Linked DNA regions of Homo sapiens. The protein of the gene in region 3 purifies or fractionates together with the protein of the main gene of each other region. This does not show direct contact. Each region holds a gene or a part of one and is shown on either strand. Other genes may lie near its edges.

Evidence for each region. The genes of interacting proteins can lie anywhere in the genome.
Region 1: the proteins of AGO3 (region 3) and AP3B1 purify together in Homo sapiens (affinity purification with mass spectrometry; 3 studies listed by BioGRID and IntAct, with this or other methods). This does not show direct contact.
Region 2: the proteins of AGO3 (region 3) and ANKMY2 purify together in Homo sapiens (affinity purification with mass spectrometry; 3 studies listed by BioGRID and IntAct, with this or other methods). This does not show direct contact.

Annotation. Positions count from the first base shown.
Region 1 is NC_000005.10:78,109,674-78,116,701, forward strand, and holds part of AP3B1 (AP-3 complex subunit beta-1), read right to left. Parts: intron 6,562-7,028; coding exon 6,453-6,561; intron 4,251-6,452; coding exon 4,079-4,250; intron 682-4,078; coding exon 534-681; intron 1-533. UniProt on the Homo sapiens protein: Subunit of non-clathrin- and clathrin-associated adaptor protein complex 3 (AP-3) that plays a role in protein sorting in the late-Golgi/trans-Golgi network (TGN) and/or endosomes.
Region 2 is NC_000007.14:16,642,730-16,650,076, forward strand, and holds the start of ANKMY2 (ankyrin repeat and MYND domain-containing protein 2), read right to left. Parts: upstream 3,026-7,347; 5' UTR 2,845-3,025; coding exon 2,778-2,844; intron 1-2,777. UniProt on the Homo sapiens protein: May be involved in the trafficking of signaling proteins to the cilia.
Region 3 is NC_000001.11:35,934,102-35,941,129, reverse strand, and holds part of AGO3 (protein argonaute-3), read right to left. Parts: intron 1-7,028.

The DNA.
Region 1 (7,028 bases), on a different chromosome or scaffold from region 3:
TTTATTTTTTTCCTGCTAAGCAGGCAAAATTCAGTGTTAAAAATGTTATTACCAAAAAGCATTATTATTTTATTATATAAGTGGTTCCATTTGTTTTTAAATAAATGGCTACGCAAATTCTTACTAACTAAAGAATGTATACTCTTTAATTGAAGCCTTAAAACACACTCTATTATGCAAAATGCCCAATATTTTTAAAAAGTGAATAGTCTCAATTTCTTATGATGTATGTACACTTATAATTCTTTGCTCAATACTATTTTTGTGACTTCCTTTCACTTCCCCTTCAGCAAAACCCCCCCCTTGTCACAACCTAGCCAAGAACAAAAAAGGTCATATGCGTAAGAGTTCCTTGATTTCAGTGGCAAGGGATGAGATTTTTTAAAGTTTCTAGCATTTCTGCAGAGTTGGGTTATAAGGGAAAGGCTTATCTAGAAAAAATAAAATCACAGGAGTAGATGAGGATGGTGTTGTCTATTTTAGTTGCTATAAGAATATTTACCTTCAATTACAACAAATGTATAATCTCTTACCTTAGTGACTCTTCTGGATTCAGATTCACTTTCAGGTTCTGACTCTGATTCAGAATCGGAAGAACTGTCTTCTATTGAACTAGATTCGTCATTTGAAGAATCTGAAGTTTTAGATTTTTCATTTTCCTTCTCCCCATCTTCAGAATCACTACACATAATAGTAAATTTTGAAATATGAACTTTAACTCCTTTATATAAGCAGTTTATAAAAAAATTGTTTTTAAATTCCAGAATACATTAATGAGGTAATAAAAAAGGTATTACCCATAACCAAATAAATTAGAACCCATTCAAATTCAATTCTATCCTGTCATACAAATTTCAAATGCAAAAAGTCATAAAATGACACTAAACAATATAATCAAAAGCAATGTAGAAAACATTAAATGTTTGATTTACCAAGAATTAAGTACTACCAGTAACAACGTTAAAGATATTTAGGCTGATTTTTTAAAACGCTATCTCAAAATACTGTGCCTGTGTGTGTGTGTGTGTGTGTGTGTGTGTGTATGTATGTATACATACATGTATATATATACGTATATACATATATATTCATGTATATATACGTATATATATACGTATATGAGACAGGGTCTCATTGTACAGTGGTGCAATCACGGCTCACTGCAGCCTTGACCTCCCGGGCTCAAGCGATGCTCCCATTTCAGCCTCCCAAGTAGTTGGGACTACAGGCATGCACCACCACATCCAGCTAATTTTATATTTTTTGTAGAGACAGGGTCTCACTAGGTTGCCTAGGCTGGTCTGGAACTTCTGGGCTCGAGTAGTCCTCCCAACTTGACCTCCCAAAATATTGGGATTATAGGCTTGAGCCACCACACCTGGTTTAGTAATATATTTAAATATTTATATATCTACTTCTGCTAAAATAGACTTGTATTTTATACATTTTCTACCCAAGAAAATTACTTACACAAGTTCCCAAATGTGACCTTAAACACATTCTATGAGAAAATGTTAACCAGTTCAAAGGAAATTCTTCTAAAGTACTATCTTGCTAAAAATTTAAGCTAATCAAATATAAACTTTTAAAATATCAAATGATCATACCTAAGTGCTTAACACCATTCATTTGTTCACCTGCTCAACAAATATTTATTAATTATTGACTACATGTTGGCATTATGCTAGGTGCTAAGGATAACGATGGTTAGTAAGACACAGAGGATCTCTGTGTGTCTACCCTACAGGGTCTACGGTCCACTGGAGGATACAGATAAGGTTGCAGTGATAATACAGTATAATAAGTAATAAGTAATAAATTATAGCGTGTCAGGAGAACATGTGGAGAGACACCTAAAAAAACTTGATCCAATTAGGAATGCTTCCTGGAGAAAGAGACATATAAGCCAAGATATAGGAGTAAGGCTGGCAGATGGGCAGGGAAACAGTTCTCCAAGGAGAAGGAATAACATGTGAGATGACCAAACACCCTTCTCTCAGGGGATGACAAATGCCTTGTGGTGCTTTATATTTTCCTGGAAACTAAAGGTCTAGTTCTCTCTACCACATGTGTGTGTATTTTTTTAAGAATCTACTGTGGGCCAGAAAGGGCTAGGCACTTCATACCAATCATACTAATTATCTAATTTAAATGCACTCTTCCTGGGTACATTATTATCCCATTTACAATAATGAAATTAATATTTAGAAAGGTTAAATAACCTGCTCAAGGGCACATAACAAGAGGGGCAGAACTAGAATCTGAACTCAAGCCTGTCTCATTCCAAAGTCCGTATTTTTTCCACTATGTCATACTATCTCCCTTCAAATGAAAATACCTTGGAGTGTAAAATTTAAATTTGGTCATAAATATTTATGATTACTAAAGGGTGGTTTTTGAAGATGTTTAAAGCTTATTAGGAGCTTTAAAAAATTATCATACTGGCAAAGTTAAAAAAAATTCTGAGACAGAAAAATACAGGGGGAGGGAGAGGAGTGAGACAAGGAAAGAATCAATATTTCCTAGAATTGATTTTTGTGGAGGAAATATGATTGCTATTTATTAAAAATGGAGCCATGGTAACATCTCAGAGCACATGTAATTATATTTGAAGACTGAAAAATATGTTGTTGTTTTTCCCTGGCAAAAAAATGGCAATTTATTATCCCCAATTCACTGGTTAAAATGTGTACTTAAAAATATAAGGTTTAGAATGTATTTGTGGTTCTCTTTGTAATAAACAATTCTTTTAAATTCAAACATGGGTAAAGAGAAAAATCCATTTCTGAAGAAAAGAATAATAAACCTAATACATGACTACAAATTTTGAGTATACTGACTTTTGCCATCTGAAAGGACATTTCATGCACTGAACAAAACTTTCCCTTTCTAGAAACAGGACATGTTTTATAACTCGTATCATCATAGACATGCTGATATTAAAGCAGAAGTACAGGATTTCTCTCAAAGACAAGGCTATTATAAACCAAGTAGCTCCTTTGCTGCAACAAGTGAATGATTCTAAATATATTCAACTTCTAGCTTTTAAGATAAGATTTTAAAAGTAAAAGTGTTATTTTATTATGCATCACTCAATTTTGATGGTAATTATTGTTTACCTTACTGCTTAGAGTTTCAGATGTTAATCTAATGAAAAGAATTTACTGGTAACTAGGTTTTTAACTTTGCAATGATGAAAAGCCTGTATTAATTTAACCTACAGATTTCATTTGTTCTGAACAGGAAAAACAATATAAATCACTTTTAAAATCATTAAATCCTGACTTAAATTAATAAAGTCATAATTAGGGCATTATGCTGTGTTTGTTATGGAAGTGGCAGGGAGAGCTGCTTTAATTACTGTCTGTAATAAAAGGAGCAGAGAGCGTACTGCGCCCCAATCAGTGCTGTCAGCCACGACTGAGCCGGGCTGCAAGCTCATCAAGTGAGCGGGCAGCAGGCTCCCGGGGAAAGGACCATCATGTCGGCAGAGGCCACTCGCTGACAGCAGCGGGGAAAACAGAGTTGCACAATCCAAGATATTAGACCCAATTACTCAAAATTTTAATGACACTTTAATACATGATAATGTTATTGATAATGGGAGATCTTAAAAAGTGCTAACACTTAAAGATCTTATGACCGTCTTCCTTCACAGCCCTTGACTCTAATATTTGGATCATAATCTTTTTAATATAACATTATTTAGAAAAATCAATTGTCTTGGTTACATAATGGCAAAGTGTTGAAGGATTTAATTTTAGCCCTCAGCAAAATCGCTACAAAAGGTAATTAAGTGTTTCATACCTATTGCTTGATCACTTAACTCAGCCTTCCAAGGTTATACCAATTTTCAAAATGTAACCCCAAGATATGTTCAAGTTCAAAATGAAAGCTAAGCATTACAAGTAGGAAAATAATGTGAACAACTAGCACTTTAATTTTAAAAAGATTTAATATCTGGAAAAAAATACACACTTTTTTTCTCTCACCATTTTTTGATTAATAAGAAACATCTCTGCCTGGGGCAAACTTTCACAGAATATTTTTTGAAGGAAATTCTGACAAAATAAGTTACCTTTTTCCTTTGGCTTTTGAGTTCCTCTTGGCTGTTCTTTTGTTTTCTAGGCCTGACTCCCGTCCACTCTCACTGTCCTGCTCACTGGAGGAGTCCTCACTGCTGTCCTCATTGCTGTCTCCTTCCTCCCCACTTTCGCCTTGTTCTCCACTTTCACTTCCAGATTCACTCTCTGAAAAACAGAACCAGATGTTCTTAGATTTATAGTCATTTAATTAGACACACGGACACCTGTAACTGTCAATATTCATCACAAATGAAACCAGATGTTGAATTTTAGTTCAGTGGACACCACTTGTTTAACATTTTATTCCCACACCCCATTCTTTCAGCTCTATGGATTCCTTTAGCACTGTGAGCTTGGAGGGAGGCAGACAGAGGATGCTCTGACAACGAGGAGAGAAAAGCTAAGCAAAGGTGAACCAAGTAAACCAAATTTGAGGGAATCTCACTTCAAACCCCAAAGTATATAGCTATGTCAAAAACTTTCTTTTAAAGAATTACGTAAGGATTGATGTAAGGCTAAAGAAATAATTTTGAATTCTTCTGCTTGTAATGGGAAATTCTATTTAGAGTAAAAGAAGGCAACAGTTGAATCTTCTTAGGAACAAATTTTGAGAGGAAAATGAGCCATTCAAATCACTTGGAAAGACCTCCAAATTCAAAGACAATAGGCAAAATGACTAATTAAAGAGTTATTACTTATTCGAGCTAGTAAACGAGTTTTCCATAGGTCAAAGAGATGATCAAGTTACACTGAGGAATTATACTTTTAAATGTTTTATGTGTAAATTATGGTATGCTAGGACTGTTCGCAGAAGAGAATACATGAAGAATATATGTGTATTTTTTAAGTGAAGCATAATTTTTACTATTTAAAATGACTATAACTACAGAGTTGTGTCCCAGACAAAAGGACAAACTGTTGCCCTGCCTGTGATCTATGTAACGAAGCCCTCTTAGGCAGGAACATAACCTTTAATTAAACATTCTAATGGTTAAATAATACCAACATCAGGAAGGTCCATCACAGTGAAAACCTAGGACTGCCTGTATTGTTTTAAGACGGCTTACAAGGGGTACAAGCATGGGTTCTCAAGTTAGTGTTCGGATTCAGATCCTGGCTCTTCTACTTGCCAGTTGTAAAACTGAACAAGTTATTCAACTTCTCTGGGTTTTGGTTTCCTTTTCAGCAAATGGGGATAACACTAGTTACTTTTCAGAGCTGTTGTGAAGATTAAATGATTTGAAACATACAAAGGAGATTAGAACACAACAGGGTCTGCCACAGGGTAAGGCACTCATCATTATCATCATTTACAAACAGGAAAGTTTATTTTACTAAAATAAAGCTACTAAATAAGGACATTTTAGATTTGTGGTAATATCCAAGTTACACGCACATACATATTAAGTCAGATAACTGGCTTATGCTATAAACAATGAAAGAAATTACAGGTAATGTATCACAGATTAATTTATCAGATACTAAAAACAAAGATTTTTGATAAGGAAGACAGAGAAAAGAAGAGTGAATTACCTTACAGTAGGGTAGCAGATAACCATGTAAGAGTGACAGGCCCTGGTTCTCCAAGGAATAAAGATTTTAGAGAAAGTTGGGTGTCGTTTGGTCTTGGGTCAGATTTGCCTATTAGCTTAAGTGTTAATAAGAGCATCAGAAAGTGACTACAATCTATTTTTCATTATGCAAATCACTCACAGAATTTTAGCAATGAAGGGACTTTAAGAAATATTTAACTGTACCCCTTCATTTATCTGATATAGAGAAAAGTAGGTGCCTTATTCAATTTGCATAGGTAAAAGCCAGGGCCTCTAAATCCTTCCTATTAAGCATTCTTTTCACTGCATATAGTTACCCTCAACCTTTAGTTTGATTTTTTTATAGTATATAGAGACTTAATAATTTTAGCTTTATCTCTATAGAGGTTCACAGAAAGAGATAAGTATAAAATGAAAGAGAAAAAGACTCTTCAAGGTATAAAATAAACTTTACGTTTTTGTAAAAGAAAGTTACTTTTAAAGACCCCACTAAAAGTTCATCAAGTGTAAAATTATGTTTTTCAATAGATATATTAGGCATTGTGGTTTAGAATTCAGAAAAGTATGAGTTCCTGTTTCAGCTATACCAATGTATCAGCTACTATCCAAGAGATATTGTAAAGTAAAAAGAGAATTTAGTAATTAAAAATTACTTTGAAAACTAAAGAGTGATATATAAATGAAAGGGATTATTTTGATAATACAAACTTCACTTAAAACTACCTGCTGAATATTATGGATTAGGCCTTGTTTCTGAGATATAGAATGTAATCTACTATGTAAATAATATATGCCAATAAATTATAAAACCCACCACTGTCACTGCTACTATCAGAAGAGTCCTCCTCTTCCTCAGATTCAGAATAAAACTTCTTAGCAGAATTCTCTTGCTTTGCTTTTCCTGCTGGGGTCCATTCTTTTGCCTGTTTAAACAAATAAAGTAAATATAAATGAATTCTCATTCAGAGATTTAGAGTTCTGGCAAACTTAATCATTAACAACATAACTGAATTCAAAAGCAAGCTTAAGGCCTCCACAGGGAATGCAACTGTTAGAAGTCCTGGCATTAAGGCTGATTCACTTTACTCCTAAATACAACAACACAAACTCTCACTCAGAGGCCCTATGTTAAACCAACAATCTTATTTTAAATATACAATTTTTAAAACTTTTGTGTTTTTTGGCCCACAGAAGATTTAAACAAAAGTAATATATCCTAAAATAGGTGAGCGAAACTAGAAGCAGATACAATAACAGCAATAACAAACACAAGTTGATAGCTTGACACTGAGGGAAAAGAGAGAAAAAAAAAAAGAAAGAAAAGAAAATATTTAGTGTAGGCAATAAATTGCCCTAACCATCTCAACAGCCTAAATCCTGGAGTAATCCT
Region 2 (7,347 bases), on a different chromosome or scaffold from region 3:
TTTCTTCAACTATAAAATAAAAATTTACTTTAAATTTAATGCACACAGAACTACAAAATCAGTAACATTTAAAACTGAGTTAACTTGACAGATGTTGTTTTGCTAGAACTAAATGACCTCTCAAAGTGAATATTGTATGGACTGCTATGGTACTGTTTCATGTTTTGTTTAGTTTGTTTTTAGGTACAGCCTGTTTATTACCTATGGGCCCTGTGATACCTCTGCTCTGCCACTTTCTGCCACTTACCTGTTTGACACTAAGTTTCCTAACTTCCCAGTTCCTCAGTTGCCTTGCCTATAAAGTGAAGATTACTATATTTATCACAAACACAAGCAGTATTTCGAATGCTTTAACTATACTAACTACTTTCATCCCCATAACAACGTTGTGAGGTGGGTATTATTATTATTCCTATTTTTCACACAGAGGACTTGAGGCTCAGGAAAAGTCACTTGCCCAAAGGCCACATCACCAGTAAATGAGTTAGAATTTCAAACCAGACCTGCATGGTTAACCACTATCCCATGCTGTCTCTCATACTGTCATAGCTTAAAATTAATTCCTAGCTCATCCAAATTAAATGCATTAATATATGTAAAGTACTTAAAATTATGTGTGGCTTGCAATAACAGTCAATAAACGTTGGCTATGGTTGTTTTTCTCATATCTCCCATTACTTTTCTTTATGAGTGCAAGTGATGTCCCACAGACCTTCATTTGACAAGAATGCATCACATACTAGGTCCACATCAGTTCTTTTCTCATTGGCATGGTCCAATGAAAGCGATGAAAGCATCAGTGCACTCATGCAACTTGATGCACCGTGTGAGCCCAGAAATATCACAGCACTAACCAGAATAAATGCACATTAATTCAGGTTTATATAATCTTCAAAATAAATACTGATGGACACCTGAGAATGTATCCAAGGAATCCCTTCTCCCCTCTCAAAGACTCAATTTATAAAACTGCTCACTATTTTTCACTTTTAAGAGATCACATGATGGGCCAGGCCCAGTGGCTCATGCCTGTAATCCCAGCACTTAGGGAGGCCGAGGCAGGAGGATCACTTGAGCCCAGGAGTTCGAGAGCAGCCTGGGCAACATAGGGAGACCCCCACCACCCCATCTCTACAAAAAAAAAAAAAAAATCTTTCTAAAGTAGCCGGGCATGGTGGCTCGCACCTGTAGTCCCAGCCACTAGGGAGGTGGAGGCTGCAGAGAGCTGCAACTCCAGCCTGGGTGAAGAGTGAGATCCTGTCTCAAACAAACGAGAGAGAGAGAGAAAGAGACAGCGAGAGCGAGAGAGAGAGAGGACATGTACTAGCTCTGTCCTGCCTAAAAGAATTTTTGTCCCTGGTGGATTGTGAATTGATCCTTTGTCTCCTTTTTGCCCAGCACAGTACCTGGCACACAGCTAGAACTTGCATGTTTGCTTAATTGAATCCCAGAGCCATCAAAGGCAGGGAGAAATTACCTAGAGACAGGAAGAACTGAAAGACTGAAATGCCAAATAGGTCAGCAAGAACCATGCAGTACAACAATCTAAACTCTAACCCAAATCCCCAAATTCCAGGCAAAGAACACATCATTGATAGATATAGCTGTGACTGACTTAGAATAGTTGAGATCAGATCGGGTGGGCTCAGCTCATCAGCACCTGTTGAGTTCAAACCGGAATTTTTTCTCCTTCGCATGTGGAGTTTCCTTGTCGCTATGAAGAATAAATCTGCCTTATTCTCTAGGATTCCACATTTCAGCCTGGCTACTAAGTAAATAAAACTGGAAACTGGGAAGCCTTATGCTGCAATGACTGGCATCTCTGCCATTCGAGGACAAACATGGCTATATTATTATTGAGTTTAAAATCACCACATTAATTGCCCGGAGTCGCACGCATCACCATCCCTGCACCGTGAGGGTGCAGAAGAAGCATGCAGTCACGCTGATGTCACCTGCCAGGTAACGGGACTCGGCAGGGAACTCCTCTGGGACGTCCACTCGGGGACTCCGGGGAAATATGGCTTCTGGCTCGTCCTCGGGGCTCCCCGCTGGGACTCAGCACTGCGGAAGTGGGGCACGCCTTGGGGGAGTGGACAAGAAAGCGCGAAGGAGCGCGATTAGAAGGTCTCATCTGTGCAACGTGGGCCGAGGGGTGGGTGTGGAGGCCTCGCCAATTTCCTTGTCTCTCTAGGGTTCCTGAGGCTGTCGGGGCTTCTGGAAGCCAGGGAGGCCCTGGATACGGAAGTCTCAATGCAGCAAATTACAGACCTAGTTCTGTACCCTTATGAAGAACCCCTCTCCCTAAGGGCGCCCTCCACTCCCAAGCGGGGGCGGGGATCGGCAAAGGATCCAGATCATTCGGCCTGCGGAAGTCTAAAGGGTCATTTAGACACCCGCCTAAGAACCTGAAACTACCAGGACTGACCGCGGTCAAAATCCCTCGGGAGCAGTGAAGAATTCACACACTGGGGTCCACACCCCGGGAAGCTCGCATTAACCTAAGGCGGGGCGTGGAAATCCGTACGTTTCCAAAAGCGGATTTAGAGGCCGAGCCTCTGTAACTACCCCTCTTGTCCCAGCACTGCTTCTGCCTCCCCACCTCTCCGCCCCTGCAACCTTTCCCAGACCAAAGGGAGAAACGCTCTTTCCCGGTTCCAGGCTGCAAACCTTGCAGAACCGCAGCCAAAGGTCACCCAGGCCAGGAGCGCCCCCCGGGCTCCGCCACGCCCCCCGGCCAGGCTGGCCGCGGCCGCGTCGCAGCCCAGCACCCGTACCTTTCCCGATGACTTCCAGTAGCTCCTTCTCCTCCTGGGTCAGCTCGCCTTTCTTTATGTGAACCATTGCTCCCGCCAGCTTGAAGGTTATTCCCTTTCTTAGGGAGTATTAAAAAAGAAACGATGCGTCTGTATTGGGAACGCCAGCCGCAATGAGGCAACTTGAGACCAAGACACTGAGTAGCCAACCGCGGAAACGCTTCGCTTCTCTCCTCCCTCCCGCGGGCTGGCGGACAGCGGGCGAGCTCGGGCGAGCCAGGCGGACGGTCTCCGCAGGCCCTGCGGCGGTCACCGCCTGCCGCCTGTCATTGGCCCTGCCGAGGAGGAGGAGCCGCAGGAGGCGGTAGCGAGAGATCGCCATTGGAGCAACCTGGGAGGACAAAACCAAATGCAGAAAGCTGGAGGGGGGAATTAAATTCCTCCTACACGTTCCGCTCCCCTATCCTGTCCGGTTCAAATATTTCGCCACATGTAATATTGAAAATTCTACAGCTGGCAGTTATGTGCTCAGCGACGGCTTTCTGGGGCATGCAGAGGCCCCAGGTTGTCGCCGTACCCCCACCATTCCCCCGGGAGTGGCGCAGTCTGGGCGGGGGCGGTCTAGGAGACGGGGGCGGTACGGGAGGCGGGGCTGCGCCGGGTTCCGTGTGTCTATGTCAATGTGTCTGTCCTTCACTCCTCCATTGTCTGCCGCCACTGCTGCTGCTGCTGCTGCTGCCGCTGCTGCTGCACGAATCGCCGCAGCCCCCAGCCTTGCGCGTCGTCGCTACCTCCTCGGACAGGTGAGAAGCAGCCCAGGTGAGGCAAGGGGCGCCGTGAGGGTTGCGAGAGTAGCGACTGCCGCCCCGCCGGGGTTTCCATCGGGCAGGAGCTGGCGGGGAGGAAGCATGTGCCTCCTGGGGCGGCTTCCTGCCTCGCGGTGGAGAAGCCCCCGCTCCACCTCATCATCACGGCGCGTACGGGGTATCAGTGCCCTGGGATGAAGACCTCCGACTCGCAACGTTTGGCCGCCTCGGGAGACCCTGGGACCGCGGGCGGGCGGGCGGGGGCCAGCCACGCGGTGGGAAGTGGCGGGTGCACATGGTCTCGTGCGTGGCACCGCCAGATGCGGCTCCCGGGGAGGCTGGGGCCGGGGCTCTGGGCTAGGTAGGGGTCGCAAGGACAGCGCCCCATTACTAGCGAGTCAGTGAGAACAGACTCGGGAGAAGGTAGTTTTTACGCTGGTGATCCTCGCCCTCCCCACTACTTGTCATCTCTTTGGCCTCTGTGGAAGCTGTAGAAGAAAACCTGATCGCCCAATGTTGCTTGTTAAAGATGTTTGGAAACAATTTACACTTGCACTAATACTTCGTTTATGAGAGACAGCCTGTGGGAGGGGGAAGGAAGGGCTTCTTTGCTCTGCTAGAGTTCTCGGTTCTCTTTGTAACTCAGATCTTGAGATTTATGGAAATAGGGAGTGGAGGGTGGGGAGGTTGGAGAGGGCGGAGATTAAATTGGTGTTGCTGCCTATATATAGCCTTAGATTAGCCTCTTAATCCAACCTTCATTCAACTGTAATATGTAGCCTGGAGCTTCGACCATAGGTAGATGGGGGTAAATACAAGTGTGTATTTCAGAATAAGATTTGCTTGCTAAAATGCGGGAATCAGTCATTTCTCCAGGGTGCAGATTTATATTTACATCATCAATGAAAGTTTCTTTGGAAATTAGTGTTTATGTTTTACTGTTGTTTCCCTACAGAGTAGTATTGATGTTTCTCTCAATATGTGTGTCAAAGAGACGTGTATGTGTCAAAGAGAAATATTTGAGTAATTATGTAGGTGGTTTTTGTTAAGCATCCCCAGGACCACTGTTTCTTCTCATAGCGCCATACGAAAAGCGAAATGCATTTTCCTCTGGCCTTAGGCATTTATTTTGCGTGAAGCTTTCACTAACATCTGAAATCTCCTGGAATATGTTTATCATTATTTCCTGCCTTTAGCAAAAATCTTTCCTAAACTCCAGCTGTTTTTCCCCCCTAAAGCTTCAGCATTAAAGACTGGGACAGATCTGAGCCAGAACATCTTACATGAAAATGGTTTGAAATTATTCATCTCAGTGTATAACAAAGATACTTTTGTTGGATGATGCTTTAATAATGATGTGGCTGTTCAAGCAAGTAGTAAGGCTCCTGAGAGTGACCAATCTTTTGTAATGCTGTTAGTTCAGAGTTACAATTGATTTATAACATAGTATCATGCGGAAGAAACCCACAAACCTAAAAAAACAGTTGAGTGGTAACCTCCTGGAACATGTGATTTAGCATCTTACCAGCAGATGCATACACATAATTGGGTACTTCATTGCTAGTATTTCCATCTCTTGTGCCAAATCTGGGCCATGGTTACTTGAAGGTCACACCTGTTTGTCTCACTGGGGTTGTCAGTTCCTCGAGGATAGCAGCTTACTATCTATTTTCTTGATGCCTTATGACACTTGGTTGGTATTTAGTGCTCTCTGAATACATGACCAGTGAATTTAGAGACAATAACGTTGAAAGAGAATCTAACATCTACCTAGAAATGCAAATAAATCATGTTCAGTTTACATTTCTAGAAACAGATTCATAATGGGTACTGTTCATTAGATGGATTGATTACATTAGTAGTTTTGTATGGTGTAAATATTTAATGTAGGGATAAGATTAGATAATGAGCATATTAAAACAGATTCACATCAAAGAAGTTTTATTGATAATAAGATAGCTACTTCATATTGAGTATTTAGTCTGTGCTAGATATTCTACCAGATGCTTTGCATAGAATTATTCTAGTGTTATGACAACCCAGGAATGAGCCAATATTATACCCACTTTGCAAATAAGAGGACAGAAAGTAAGGGAAATAATTTGCCCACAATCCCATATTAGGAAGTGTCAAGTCAGAATTGGAATAATGATTTCTGAAATGTTTGAAATGTTGTATGTGTCCTCTCATATCTACCACTCTAGAGCTATTGCAATGCATCTTAAGTAGCCTGCTTCTCTCTCACCTGTCTCCATCTAGCTAATTCAGGGAACTACCAGTTCAATAAACATTGAGCACCCATCATTCTTTGAATGGCTCTCTGCTGGCCACAGAATAGAGGGCTGGGTCTGGCCTGGAAGGTTCCAATCCATCCATGGTCTCAGCAGGCATTTCCAGTCATCTGGGCCCTCCCACACACTGGGCTCTAAGGTCACCACTCTGCTTGTTCCCCAACCTGCCGGTAATTTCCACCCCTTTGTTCCTGCTTTTCTCCTCCTCTGAATGATTTCCCTTCCCTTTTCACTGAATCTCCTCTCCAGATCTGATGAACTATTCAACTTTCCAGACACAATTTAAACAAAACCTCTTTTCTTCAGCTTTTGTGTTCATCTCTCCCTCTCTATCCAGTAAGGGAAATATACATGCTAGTAAATACATTTATTCATGTCTCTTGGCAAGGGTTATAAGTAAAATCTTTGTACATGGAGGATATTGATATGCAACATGGCTACTGGTATCATTGCTGGCAGCCTTTAATTCTCTCTTCTTATGGATTCTAGCGACCCCTCTTTTACCGCCCCCCTAAATTGACATCATTGCTTCTTCATCTGAATCTCCATGAAAATACCTAAAACAAGCACTTTCTCATCGCATTCTATTATAGTTATTATTAATCTGTTTGGTCCCTTCTCATTCTACAGTATACATTAACTAGGTCAAATTTATCTTTGTTTCTCAGGTTTAACCCAGTGTCTTGCACCTAGTGTATGCTCAGTACAAGCTGAGTTGAATTCAGTTTGATTTCTAAGTTATTTTAGGTGGATTTGTTTTCCTACTTGACTAATCCTTCCTGGCAATGTGAGGTGAGGTGGCACTAAGCACGCACAATCATAACCAGAGGCAGAAAGTCTTTAAATGTTTTGGATCTCAAGCTTCTTGACATTCTGATGAATGCTATCAACCAAGAAAAATTGTTCTTGTGCACATGTTACAAATTTGGCATGCCATTCTTAGATTTCCCCATTAAAGACCCTGATTTCCAGCTCTCTACATTAGGAGAATGCTGCCTTTTTGTTGCATTTTTGAGTATTACATCTTTCAGGGTACTGTTTGTCTTGACATTTGACTTTTTTTCCTTAGACTTAGGTATCTTTATTGACTGGATATTTGATAATAAGAAATTTTGATTTTTTTAAGTTGGAAGTAGATTACGGTTATATTTTTAAAAGATTACTTATCTTTTAGAGATAGGAACAGAATTATTTCAGAACTGGATGAGAAGACAGCTGAGATTTGCTTTAATATAATTCTGTGACAGAAAGGAAGAGAGACTGAATGAGAATATAAATGAGATAAAATTGACTATGTTAACAGTTGAAGATGGGTGATGAGTATATTCACTTGATTATACTGTTCTCTCTACTTTTGGATATATTTGAGATTTTCCATAATGAAGTTTTTAAAAAGAAAATTTGGAAGTATTACAGCCTCTAAGAAATCTTTTTTTTTTAAACACAACATAAGAAAGTAATATAAATACAAATGTTCTTTTTTCTATACTTGGA
Region 3 (7,028 bases):
AGACTCAGTGATAGTAGCAAGTTTGGAGGGGAAATCAAGAGGATTTTAAGGATATGCTAAATTTGAGGTGTCTACAAGTAGATGAATAGTAAGCAGTTAGATGAGTGTGGAGTTCAGAGGAGAGGTCCAGGCTGGAGGTGTAAATGTGGGTGTCCTCAGCATAGAAGTGTTATTTAAAACCACTGGATTAGAGATCAGACAGACTGTGGCATGGATACAGAATACTAACCCCAAGGATACTCCCAATATTTAGAAATTAGGGAAATGAAAACAGCAAAGGAACTGGAAAAGTAACAGCCAACAAGGTTGGAGGAGGACCTGGAGAGAGTGGTACCCTGAAAACCAAATGGAGAAAAACAGTGTTTCAAGAAGAAAATGTCATTAGATGTGGATGAAATAAAATGAAGATCTGGGAACTATTGGGTTTAGCTAAGTCTTTGCTGACCTTGATAAAAACAATTCCAGTCAAGTGCTAGGGACAAAAACCCAACTGTAGTAAGTTCAAAAAGAATGGCCTGAATTTGATCAAGCCCTTGGATCCACTAGCAGTTTACAGGAAATTCAAAGGATTATGTTAAATTAAATTGTAAAGATGGAACCAGCAAAATCCAGATCGTGAAAAATTCTAAAAGGACAAACAGCCCATAAATTGCAGAGGAGAAAAACAAGGAGAGAAAACTTACCGATTAAGACACTTAAAAGACATATCGATCAATCACAATGTGTAGAACTTATTTGGATTTTGAATCAAAAATTTTTTTTAGGCTGGGCGTGGTGGCTCATGCCTGTAATCCCAGCACTCTGGGAGGCTGACGCGGGCGGATCACCTGAGGTCAGGAGTTCAAGACCAGCCTGGCCAACATGGTGAAACCCCGTCTCTACTAAAAATACAAAAATTAGCCGGGCGTCATGGCGCATGCCTGTAATCCCAGCTACTCAGGAGGCTGAGGCAGGAGAATCGCTTGAACCTGGGAGGTGAAGGTTGCAGTCAGCCAAGATCATGCCACTGAACTCCAGCCTGGGCAACAGAGTGAGACTGTATCTCAAAAAAAAAAAAATTTTTTTTTAAGGCAAACAGTTTAAAAAATAATATGTGAGACAAGTAAAAATTTGAACAATGATTAGAAATTTTTATAAGTGATTATTATTTTGCTGTGATAATGGTACTATATCATGAGTCCATAACTTTTATAGTTACTACTAAATATGAATAAAATCATATTATACCTAGAATATGCTTCAAAAATATAAAAGAGGGAAAAGTAGAAGAGAAGCGATTGGACGTGGGTTGATGACTGCGTTTGGGTGGTGGGTACAATAGAGTTTATTATACAGTTCTGCCTATATGTATACATCCTAAATTCTCTATAGTAAAATATCATAAAAAAGAGAGAAATGGCCATTTCCTTTGCATGTGTCATCTCTTCTTACTATCCCATTGTACAGATAAGAAAATTAAGGTTAAGGAAGATTAAATGCACTGCCCAAAGTAGCAGTTAACTTTTTCTGATAGACTATTTTAGGGAAGTTTTAGGTTCACAGCAAAATTGAACAGAAGGTAGAGATTTCCCATATGTCCCAGGCCTCCTGCCCTGACATACACACAGACACCCTACTATCAACATCCTCTACAAGAGGAGAACATTTGCACTCAAACCTATACCGACACATCATTAATAAATTTCAGTTAATTTAAGAGCCAGAATCTGTCTCTAAAACCCATGTTTTTTACACTATATCATACTGTCAATTTTTTTCTCCATGGTCATTACTTTACCTGGTGCTTTTTAAATAATTTGGCACAAAGCAAAATTCTGTTGCATGAATAAGCAATGAACAGAATTCTATAGATACTAATCAAGTTTAGTATCCAGAAAATATTCTGGATATTTTCATAATATCCAGAATATTATGAAATATTTACATTACATAATAATGTAAATTAGCAGATGAAACAATTCTGTCAATACAATGAATTATACTTCCAATGAAGCATATTTTAGTTATTTAACAAATACATACTGCCCACTAGAGTTGGAAATATAACTACACAGAAATACAAAGCACTATCTGGACTTTCTCCCTATATCAAACTTTTCTTTCAGCAGTTATTGTATGTACTGGATAATAACTAACCAAACTAAATTTCAAACATAAAACCATACATTTCCAAAGCATACATGTGTCCATGTTGTTCACTCATCTAGTAATCCAATGTGTACCAGTTGGAAAGTCTAAAGCTAAACAATAGCCTACAGCAAATGTGACTGATGAAAAAAAACAAGCAGTGAATAAATCAAAATCAACTATAACATATACTATAGCCAATTACTAACTTATAGATTTTCACTGGAAACATTTTCTTTAATATTCATGGAATACTGTTTCAATAATTCTACTTCTAACAATTTATCCAAAAGCAAGCACTGGACCAGTATACAAACACATATGTACTAGAATACTTACAAAGTTTTAGTCATAATAACAAAAAACTGGAAAAAATCTAAACCACTATCAATGAGACTGATCAATATACAGATAAAATTAAATGCTATGTACTCAGTATAAATTATTATACTATTATATAGATGTAAGTAATGATATGGGAAAGATACTTACGACACATTACTAAGTGGAAAAAGAAGGTTAGAAACAATTCGTATGATAAATATATGGACAGACGGATGGATGTCTGGGAAGATATACAAGAAAGAGTTAACAATGGTTTCATCTGGAGGATAGGATCATACTTTCATCTTCTATTTGAGACATTCTTATATCGTTTGTTTTTTAAAGTAATAAACATGTAGTTATTATTTTATAATTGGAAAAAGAATGCATTTTTGGGCCGGGCACAGTGGCTCATACCTGTAATCCCAGCACTTCAGTAGGCCAAGAAGGGTGGATCACCTGAGGTCAGGTCTGGTTCAAGACCAGCCTGACTAACATGGTGAAACCCCATCTCCACTAAAAATACAAAAATTAGCTGGACGTGGTGGCGGGCACCTGTAATCCCAGCTACTAGGGAGACTGAGGCAGGATAATTGCTTGAGCCCAGGAGGCGGAGGTTGCAGTGAGCCGAGATCATGCCATTGCACTCCAGCCTGGGCGACAGAGCAAGACTCCGTCTCAAAAAAAAAAAAAAAAAAGAATACATTTTTGTTTTGGAAAAAGAAATATATTGTGTTGATCTCAAAATCTGACTTAATGAAATGTCTCTGATTTTATACATGTTAAGTCTGCAAAGCTACGTAGTAAACAGCATGGAACTTCAGGAACCTCCTACCTGCTAATTCCACTTTTTCATTCAATGAATCTGTCCAAACATACCGCACTTATTATTAGGCTCATTACAATTAAATAATCACTTATAGAACATCCAGCCAGTTGAGGGTTAAGCTTATCAGGTGGCAGTATGGGAAACAATTTATTTCTTTTTTTGAGCAGAATCTCGCACTGTGGTCCAGGCTGGAGGGCAGTGGCACGATCTTGGCTCACTGCAACCTCCGCCTCCCAGGTTCAAGCAATTCTCTTGTCTCAGCTTCCCAAGTGGCTGAATTACAGGTGTACGCCACCATGCCCAGCTAATTTTTGTATTTTTAATAGAGATGGGGTTTCACCATGTTGGTTAGGCTGGTCTTGAACTCCTAACCTCATGATCTGCCTGCTTCAGCCTCCTAAAGTGCTGGGATTACAGGTGGGAGCCACCACATCCGGCTGGGAAACAATTTTTTTTTTTTTTTGAGTTGCCCAGGCTGGAGTGCAATGCCGTGACCTCAACTCACTGCAATGTCCACCTCCCATGTTCAAAGGATTCTCCTGCCTCAGCCTCCCGAGTAGCGGGTATTACAGGCACCCGCCACTATGCCCGGCTAATTTTTTGTATTTTTAGTAGAGACGAGGTTTCACCATTTTGGTCAGGCTAGTCTCGAACTCCTGACCTCAGCTGATCCACCTGCCTCGGCCTCCCAAAGCACTGAGATTACAGGAGTGAGAAACAATTTTTAAAAGGCATTTCCTCCCTTGAAAATAAAAGGGGACATTTCCCTTGTTATTAGTAAGAGCCCATTTTGCAATCTATTCTTTCATCATTTTTAAAGTTCACAGAAATACTATGTCTCTCTCATATTGTTAGAAGATTCAGAAATCAGTTAAAATACCAAGTATTAGTAATGACTCAAAAGTAGTATTATGTAAGCTTACAATTGAGAACACATTCTTGTAAAATTTCTTCTACAAATGAAAAACCTAAAAATATGGGTGGGCATGGTGGCTCACTCCTGCAATCCCAGCATTTTGGGAGGCTGAGGCAGGAGGATCATTTGAGCCTAGGAATTCAAGACCAGCCTGTGCAACATAGTAAGATCCCGTCTCTACAAAAAATATTTTTTTAATCTAAAAATGTCTCACATCAATAGACTGTAGATACCACGTTCTGATTTCCCAAGAACTTGACAATTTGGAAATGATGTATAAAATAACTGGCTGATGTAAAACAAGGAATTCTAGGGCAGGTGCAGTGGCTCATGCCTGTAATCCCAGCACTCTGGGAGGCCGAGGTGAGTGGACTACCTGAGGTCAGGAGTTCAAGACCAGCCTGGCCAACATGGTGAAATCCCATCTCTACTAAAAATACTGAGCCAAGATCACACCATTGCACTCTAGCCTGGGCGACGAGAGCAAAACTCTGTCTCAAACAAACAAACAAACAAAAAACAAGGAATTCTTCATTTCCTTAAACTGACATTTCAGACTAATGCACACTTTTTTTTATTATAACCAAACCACAAAATGCCCACATTTTAATGTATAAGAGAAAGCATCAGTTGTGTGACAAGGTTTTGCTGAATCTCAATAGTTGGTTTTTTTTTTTTAAGCAGTGGCTAGCCAAAGAAAGTCATTAATATTAACACAGATAATGGCAGAAAACCACAGAAACTCCAAATACAGAAAGGCTGTTCATGTATCCTAACAGCATAACCATTATGGCTGAAAAACCACACAATATTCTTTCTCACATCTGTTTTGTTAATGAGCCAAGAATGAGGGTCTATTCAGTATCCAAGACAACTGAATTAGAAGGTAGGAATGTCTGGTAAATGCTGTTCATCTCAACAGTCTGAGACTAAACAGGTCTGGAAAGGATACTGATCTTAAATAAATTATCTTTTTAGTTTTACCTTCCTGAAAACAGAATTATCACTTTGGTCTTTTTTCCCCTACCCATTAGCAACAACAAAAACTTATAAATTACTTTTTAAGATTCTAGTTTTAAGTACTATAAGATAATATGTTTTGTTAGATTAATAATATTTTAATTCACCTTTCAGGTAGATCCTCAAGTATTTTAAGAATATAGAAACCGATGTGAAACTAGATGGCTATATTATAAAGCAAAATGGTATTCAACTAGAATCCATCAGCTTAGACAATTTGGCAAGAAATCTACTCTGAGCCAGGGTTTTTCCATATACAACAGAGAATTCTTCCAGGAAATGTCCCCTTTACAGGGCCCCAGGCCTCTTTGCATACTGTCAGGCCAGGCAGTAACTAAAAAACGCAATGTTCCCATTGGAAGATATAAACTAATACAAATTAATTCTAAATTACCAACTTATTACATACAATTCTCCAAAAAAGCAAAATGAAGTAGCATGTAGATATCTTTTCATTCATTCTAATGGCTTTCCTAAATAACTTAATTCCTTAAGTTTTAAAAAACTAAACAGATTAGTTTAGAATTTGGTTTAAAAATGTAAAGAACGGTTATATGAGGCTGATAGAATCATGGGTAATTTTGTAAATGTCTTCATGTTAACTGAATTATATTTGAAGGTTATCTATATGTCTTTTCCCTTAAGTCTTTTTTTAGAAGGAAAAATTTATTTTATGTCTCAATTTTTGTTTTCCCTCGGAGTCCCTTCATTGAAAGAGAAATTCTAAACCAAATATCAAAACAATCTTGCACATTTTTATAAGTCCCACTGCCAGTCAAGTGCAATAAATATATTTTTTTTAAGTCATAATGGTCACTCCAGGGCAGCATAAGCCAAAATTTAAGTGACAACCCAGTAGAAAAACCTTTATCACTTTCAAAATTCATGCCCACAGACAGAGCAGTAATTTGATTTTTTTTCTTCAAGGCAAAGAACTACAAGTGAGAAAATTTATATAACGACAAAAACATTTCTCAAAGTTATTAAAGAAGATTGTTTTCTGGGAGGCCGAGGCAGGCAGATCACCTGAGGTCAGGAGTTCAAGACCAGCCTGGCCAACATGGTGAAACCCCGTCTCTACTAAAAATACAAAAAATTAGCCAGGCATGGTGGTGCGCGCCTGTAATCCCATCTACTCGGGAGGCTGAGACAAGAGAATCACTTGAACCCAGGAGGCAGAGGCTGCAGTGAGCCAATATCATGCCACTGCACTCCAGCCTAGGCGACAGAGCAAGCAAGACTCCATCTCAAAAAAAATAAATAAATAAAAAGAAGATTGTTTTAAATACTAAATTGGGACCCTGATGGCATTACATATTTTAGTAGGTATTTTTGACCCATAATTTTTATCTACATCATTCAAATCCCAATCTTGATTTAGTTCTAGCTTCCCATATATGCAACTTTTATTCCTTTGGAACTTGGTTCCAAATAACTTTTCTAAAACTTTTATTATTAAATAAACACAGAACTCTAAAACAACTATTTTCAGACATGAATTTAAAAGTGTAAATAAGAAAGAAACAGTCTATTCACTTTTGCAAGACTGTATAAAACTTCCACCAAACATCAAACAATTTGCATGTCATTAATTTAAGGTAAAAGTAAATGTTTTTCTTCCATTATAAAGTGTAGTTCCTCTGTCCTAAACGGTAGTCTAACATTACCTGAAAACATAGACTAGAATAGTATGGACCTAAAAAATGAGTACTCAGGAGAAGTAACATCATCAAGCATTTCTGCAGCTCCCTATTCCCACTTTATTTAGAACTGAAACATAACCTATACTCTTAGTTCAGCAGTAATTAGACC